Homo sapiens: one gene and its partner. The protein of the gene in region 1 interacts with the protein of each later gene in a biochemical or structural test. Each region holds a gene or a part of one and is shown on either strand. Other genes may lie near its edges.

Region 1 (3,412 bases):
TGCTTTCTTTCCTGGGCTGTGTGCTTGGAGCTATCTTTTCTTTCCTAATAGCACACCACTGATAATTTTTGGGTTAAAGCTTGTTCTTCTGGGTGTCAAAACATGTTTCAAATTGAACAGCATTTTCCACCCAGTTGCTTTGATTCTTGACAAGAGACCCCTGGAAGGGCCGTGGGTTTCCCAGCAAATTACATTGGTTATTGGGTTGTAGTTGCTGGAGAGATTTACAAGCCTTTTAAATAGGTAAGATAGTGCTTGGTGCCTGGTGTGCCCTTTTAGAAGAGCTAAGCTTGTGCATGTTTTGTCCCCACTTCTTGTATAAAGTTATTTCCTTGGAAAAATGAAGGGGGAAAACAAAGCTTATATTTGTTTTGTCAGTATGACTTGGGTTTTGGCCACAAAGTTCTTGGAAACCACTTCTCTCTTAAGAGTTTCCATCAGTTAGTTGTGATCTTGACACTGTAAGTATGCCTTTTGTTGCTATGTTCGTTGTAGGGACTGCTGTATTGACTATGGGCTTGTTTTCTCCAGATTTACTCCAACTTAGCAAACTGCAGCCCCAACCGACAGAAGCCCGTGGTAGACCATTCTGTGCGGATCAATTCTGTCGGCAGCACCGCTTCCTCCTCCCAGCCTCTGCTTGTGCACGACGATGTCTGAGCAGAATCAGTGTTTGGGTCACCCCTCCAGGAATGATCTCTTCTTTTGGCTTCCATGATGGTTATTTTCTTTTCTTTCAACTTGCATCCAACTCCAGGATAGTGGGCACCCCACTGCAATCCTGTCTTTCTGAGCACACTTTAGTGGCCGATGATTTTTGTCATCAGCCACCATCCTATTGCAAAGGTTCCAACTGTATATATTCCCAATAGCAACGTAGCTTCTACCATGAACAGAAAACATTCTGATTTGGAAAAAGAGAGGGAGGTATGGACTGGGGGCCAGAGTCCTTTCCAAGGCTTCTCCAATTCTGCCCAAAAATATGGTTGATAGTTTACCTGAATAAATGGTAGTAATCACAGTTGGCCTTCAGAACCATCCATAGTAGTATGATGATACAAGATTAGAAGCTGAAAACCTAAGTCCTTTATGTGGAAAACAGAACATCATTAGAACAAAGGACAGAGTATGAACACCTGGGCTTAAGAAATCTAGTATTTCATGCTGGGAATGAGACATAGGCCATGAAAAAAATGATCCCCAAGTGTGAACAAAAGATGCTCTTCTGTGGACCACTGCATGAGCTTTTATACTACCGACCTGGTTTTTAAATAGAGTTTGCTATTAGAGCATTGAATTGGAGAGAAGGCCTCCCTAGCCAGCACTTGTATATACGCATCTATAAATTGTCCGTGTTCATACATTTGAGGGGAAAACACCATAAGGTTTCGTTTCTGTATACAACCCTGGCATTATGTCCACTGTGTATAGAAGTAGATTAAGAGCCATATAAGTTTGAAGGAAACAGTTAATACCATTTTTTAAGGAAACAATATAACCACAAAGCACAGTTTGAACAAAATCTCCTCTTTTAGCTGATGAACTTATTCTGTAGATTCTGTGGAACAAGCCTATCAGCTTCAGAATGGCATTGTACTCAATGGATTTGATGCTGTTTGACAAAGTTACTGATTCACTGCATGGCTCCCACAGGAGTGGGAAAACACTGCCATCTTAGTTTGGATTCTTATGTAGCAGGAAATAAAGTATAGGTTTAGCCTCCTTCGCAGGCATGTCCTGGACACCGGGCCAGTATCTATATATGTGTATGTACGTTTGTATGTGTGTAGACAAATATTTGGAGGGGTATTTTTGCCCTGAGTCCAAGAGGGTCCTTTAGTACCTGAAAAGTAACTTGGCTTTCATTATTAGTACTGCTCTTGTTTCTTTTCACATAGCTGTCTAGAGTAGCTTACCAGAAGCTTCCATAGTGGTGCAGAGGAAGTGGAAGGCATCAGTCCCTATGTATTTGCAGTTCACCTGCACTTAAGGCACTCTGTTATTTAGACTCATCTTACTGTACCTGTTCCTTAGACCTTCCATAATGCTACTGTCTCACTGAAACATTTAAATTTTACCCTTTAGACTGTAGCCTGGATATTATTCTTGTAGTTTACCTCTTTAAAAACAAAACAAAACAAAACAAAAAACTCCCCTTCCTCACTGCCCAATATAAAAGGCAAATGTGTACATGGCAGAGTTTGTGTGTTGTCTTGAAAGATTCAGGTATGTTGCCTTTATGGTTTCCCCCTTCTACATTTCTTAGACTACATTTAGAGAACTGTGGCCGTTATCTGGAAGTAACCATTTGCACTGGAGTTCTATGCTCTCGCACCTTTCCAAAGTTAACAGATTTTGGGGTTGTGTTGTCACCCAAGAGATTGTTGTTTGCCATACTTTGTCTGAAAAATTCCTTTGTGTTTCTATTGACTTCAATGATAGTAAGAAAAGTGGTTGTTAGTTATAGATGTCTAGGTACTTCAGGGGCACTTCATTGAGAGTTTTGTCTTGGATATTCTTGAAAGTTTATATTTTTATAATTTTTTCTTACATCAGATGTTTCTTTGCAGTGGCTTAATGTTTGAAATTATTTTGTGGCTTTTTTTGTAAATATTGAAATGTAGCAATAATGTCTTTTGAATATTCCCAAGCCCATGAGTCCTTGAAAATATTTTTTATATATACAGTAACTTTATGTGTAAATACATAAGCGGCGTAAGTTTAAAGGATGTTGGTGTTCCACGTGTTTTATTCCTGTATGTTGTCCAATTGTTGACAGTTCTGAAGAATTCTAATAAAATGTACATATATAAATCAAGTGGAGTCATTTGATTGTTGAGATTCGTTGAGATTAAACTTTAAAGCATTAAAGTGCAATCATCCTGACAAAGTTTTGTACGCAGTTTTCATAAAATATGTGCAGGGCTATCAGATCACGCTAGGATTTACATGCTTCGAGATTCAACAGATATTAAGAATTTTCATACGTGTGATATTTTCTCATTTTAGTCTTACAACCTGAGGTCTCTATTTAAATTGAAAAATAGATACAGAGAAGGTGCTTAGTATGTATGAGCTGGGTGCTGTCATGTGGGTGAAACATTATGCATGCCCAATTGGTACCGTCCAGACCACTGGAACCCAAACAGAGGCTGAGAGTTCTTCAGCTTGAAACAAAAGGAAGCACCCTGAATCACATAATCTTATTAAGAATGAGGCACCCACACACCCTCAGTCATGACTGTCTTTATTGACGTGACATCTACACCTGCAGAAATGTCTCCTGAAAGGAAAGGGAAGGGGTGAAAAGTGACCTGTAATGAAAAGGAATCCTTTTAAAATCCAGAGGGAATTGTGTGGCAAGGAATGCGTCAATAATCAGTGAAAAACAGACCCACATTTCAGTCAGGCA
Region 2 (3,653 bases), on another chromosome or scaffold:
GAGGGAGGTAGATAAGTGGGGTGGCAGCCTGGGTCGGCCAGAGAGTTCAGGCCACCCCGGCCGGACGCCTGCCACTTGCTGTCACTGTGCCGCTGTCATGGCACGCTCCGGGAGTGCCACGCCACCTGCCCGGGCTCCGGGAGCCCCTCCACGGAGCCCACCCCAGAGGCTGGTACAGGTCAGGTGGGGTGGGAGGAAGGGAGGGCTAGGAGGAACCGGCAGCCGCTCAGCCTCCCGGGGTGGAAGGAGGGGACTCCGGGACCTTGATGTAAGCAGGCTGGTCGCTGAGCAACAATGAAGGCCTTTCTCTGCCAGGGCTGGTGCGTCACCATCTGGGGGGGTGCCCAGGGTACCCCCATGCCAGCCTCTTTGTCCGGACACAGGCATGGCTGGGGGACCAGGGATGGTCCAGCTCTGTGCTGGCCGCCGGCAGGGAGGGAGCCTGGAGCCCGTGGGAGCCCGAGGGCCTGGCGGGAGGCGGCAGGAAGTGTGTGCTGAGCCAGGGCAGGGAGGAGGAATGTGAGCTATGAACGCCGCCCGAGCTCCTCGGCTCTCTGGGCCCCCCTTCCCCACGAGCCCATGTGCTGCCAGCAGCCCACCCTGGCCCCTCCATTGCAGCCCCTCCACCTGAGGTTTTAGTGCTGTGCCTGGCGCCACTGGGACCCTGCTGACAATGAAGGGGTTTAGGTTTGATAGGCAGAACTTCTTGCCTTGTAGAGTGAAAGACGGCTGCTTCTGGACAGAGGCAGAGGGGTGGCCAGAATGACCCTGAGAACACTGAGGGGTCCTTGGCCTGGCCTCAGGGCCCCAGACACCCACCAGATCCTGCTTCCTGTCTGGTGCCCTGAGAAACCCTGCCCCGCAGGCCGCTGTGCAGGCGTGGGAAGGGCTGCCGGGCCAGCACTGTGGGGCTGGCCGCATGTGTGGGCTGCTGTGCGTGTTTGCAGGTGTGTGTGGACGTCTTGTGTCTGTGGCTGTGTGATGTGTCTTTGCGGACTGGGCCCATATCACGCTCCCACCTCCTCCACTGAATTGGGCTCCTGTCCCCACGCCTTCCCTGCGTCCCAGGCCAGCCTGGGGGCCGTGCTCCACCTCCCCTCCCGAACTGGACTCCTGTCCCCACGCCTTCCCTCCGTCCCAGGCCAGCCTGGGGGCCGTGCTCCACCTCCCCTCCCGAACTGGACTCCTGTCCCCACGCCTTCCCTCCGTCCCAGGCCAGCCTGGGGGCCGTGCTCCACCTCCCCTCCCGAACTGGACTCCTGTCCCCACGCCTTCCCTCCGTCCCAGGCCAGCCTGGGGGCCGTGCTCCACCTCCCCTCCCGAACTGGGCTCCTGTCCCCACGCCTTCCCTCCGTCCCAGGCCAGCCTGGGGGCCGTGCTCCACCTCCCCTCCCGAACTGGACTCCTGTCCCCACGCCTTCCCTCCGTCCCAGGCCAGCCTGGGGGCCGTGCTCCACCTCCCCTCCCGAACTGGGCTCCTGTCCCCACGCCTTCCCTCCGTCCCAGGCCAGCCTGGGGGCTGTGCTCCACTTCCCCTCCCGAACTGGACTCCTGTCCCCACGCCTTCCCTGCGTCCCAGGCCAGCCTGGGGGCCGTGCTGTGACTGCATCCCTGAGGGGCACTTTGGTGGGCAGGTGTCAGGGTCAGCCTTGAAGCCCCACGCCTGTGCCACCAGGTGTGTCTGGGGGAGGAGTGAGTCTATGTGGTGGGGCCCTGGAGATTTTGGGGGTCTTGCACCCTCTAATTCAGCCCATGTGGCCCAGCTGAGCCCCTGTGGGGCCAGGGAGCCACAGGCTTGTCCCTGGAGTTTCTGGTGTGACGGGCTGGGTGGTGGCCATGCAGAGAGGGTTCAGAGGGTGGGCAGGAGGCTTCAGATGAGGCATCTGGCAGGCTGGACAGGAGAAGGGTGTTCCAGACCAAGGGCAGGTCCTGAGCCCAGGGGACAGAGCACTAGCTGTGTGGAGAAGGACCCCCTTGCTCCCTTGGCGGGGCGGTCCCCCCCGCTGACATGGCCGTTTCTGGTCCATTGGGGTTTGGAGCGAGCTTGAAGGTGGGTGGCTGGAGGGGTTGGGGGTGTCTGAGGCCTGGAGACCTGCCCTCCTGAGGTCTGAGCGCCCCCTTGCCATGCCGCCCCAGCCCTGGCCTGGCCTGGCCTGTGGTCCCTCAGGGACACACAGGGAGGTAGGAGGTGAGGGAAGGGCCCTGGCAGCCCCCAGCCCGCCTGCACAGTCTCCCCTGCGCACGCCCTCAAGCTTGGCGCTCCCTGGAAACCTGAGCTGCCTCCTGCCTGCTCCGGCCACCGCCATGTTTAACTGAGCACGGGCAGCCGCTGGCCACCGCCGCCGCACCCTGGCCCACCCCCTGGCTGGGAGGTGGTCATTGGGCCTGGCCTTGCCTGCATGGTCCCCTGGCCCAGAGCCCTACCGCAGGATGCCAGAGGTAACATGGGGCAGGGCCTGGGATGGTAGCGGGGGGTCCTTCCGGGCACCAGGAGGCCCTCTGTGCCCTGTCCACACTAAGCTCCTGCCCCAGCCCCTGCTTGCTGGGCCCACGGGGGTGGGGCGGCTCATTTTCCTGGAATGTGAAAGCAAACAGAGCCGCCACCGCAGCCAGCCCCACGGAGGCCTCTGGAGAGAAAACAAAACTGCTGGCCTAGGAGCGCCTGCCCCACGCTCTGGAGGAGAGCCCGGGGCAGGGGGACGCACAGGCAGAGCCCTCAGGGACAACCGCCCCAGGAGGCCAACGGCGACAGTTCATCCCACCTGGTGCTTCCTCCCACCCTGCCTGTGCGCCACGCTGGCCTCGAGCCAAAGGAATTCTCCCAGCAACCCGGGAAGGCGGCTGGGCCCGTCGGGGAGGCTTCTGGGTTTGAAAACAGGCTTTGCCCAAGTTCCCACAGCTAAAGCTCTGTCACAGGCAGCCTGGGTGCCCGGAGTGTTTGCCACTGAGACCTGGGCCTGCCCGTGGGGGGCACGGTACCGAGTTTGGGCAGTGGCGGCACCACCGGGGAGTGGCCTCTGGAGGCGGGAGGCTGGAGCAAGAGACTGACCCTGTCCGTTGGGCCTGCAGGATGTCAGTGGGCCCCTGAGGGAGCTGCGCCCTCGGCTCTGCCACCTGCGAAAGGGACCTCAGGGCTATGGGTTCAACCTGCATAGTGACAAGTCCCGGCCCGGCCAGTACATCCGCTCTGTGGACCCGGGCTCACCTGCCGCCCGCTCTGGCCTCCGCGCCCAGGACCGGCTCATTGAGGTACCGGCCCACCAGGGCTGCGGGGTGCCGAGTGCCCCGCACCTGTCCACACTGGGGCCCTGGGTCCTTGCAGGGAGGAGGGAGACGCTGGGAACCTGAGCTGGTGCGCCTCCTGCTGCCTCGGTGGGCGGTGGCTGTGATGAATATTTGATGCCACACCTGGCCACGCGGCGTTGGGGGCTGTCTGGGCCCATGGCGGGGCTGATACATGCTGGTGGCGGCAGGTGAACGGGCAGAATGTGGAGGGACTGCGCCATGCTGAGGTGGTGGCCAGCATCAAGGCACGGGAGGACGAGGCCCGGCTGCTGGTCGTGGACCCCGAGACAGATGAACACTTCAAGCGGCTTCGGGTCACACCCACCGAGGAGCACGTGGAAGGTGGGCCACGGCCCAGGGCACAGGGT

What was found. Proteins that work in one complex are often made in the same cells at the same time.
Region 2: the proteins of KIT (region 1) and NHERF2 interact in a test that uses a peptide from one of them, tested with the Homo sapiens proteins (one large-scale study listed by IntAct).

The regions. Positions count from the first base shown.
Region 1 is NC_000004.12:54,737,898-54,741,309, forward strand, and holds the end of KIT (mast/stem cell growth factor receptor Kit isoform 1 precursor), read left to right. Parts: intron 1-531; coding exon 532-660; 3' UTR 661-2,818; downstream 2,819-3,412. UniProt on the Homo sapiens protein: Tyrosine-protein kinase that acts as a cell-surface receptor for the cytokine KITLG/SCF and plays an essential role in the regulation of cell survival and proliferation, hematopoiesis, stem cell maintenance, gametogenesis, mast cell development, migration and function, and in melanogenesis.
Region 2 is NC_000016.10:2,033,255-2,036,907, forward strand, and holds part of NHERF2 (Na(+)/H(+) exchange regulatory cofactor NHE-RF2), read left to right. Parts: intron 1-39; exon of another isoform or gene 40-97; coding exon of another isoform or gene 98-178; intron 179-334; exon of another isoform or gene 335-2,430; coding exon of another isoform or gene 2,431-2,439; intron 2,440-3,069; coding exon 3,070-3,249; intron 3,250-3,473; coding exon 3,474-3,627; intron 3,628-3,653.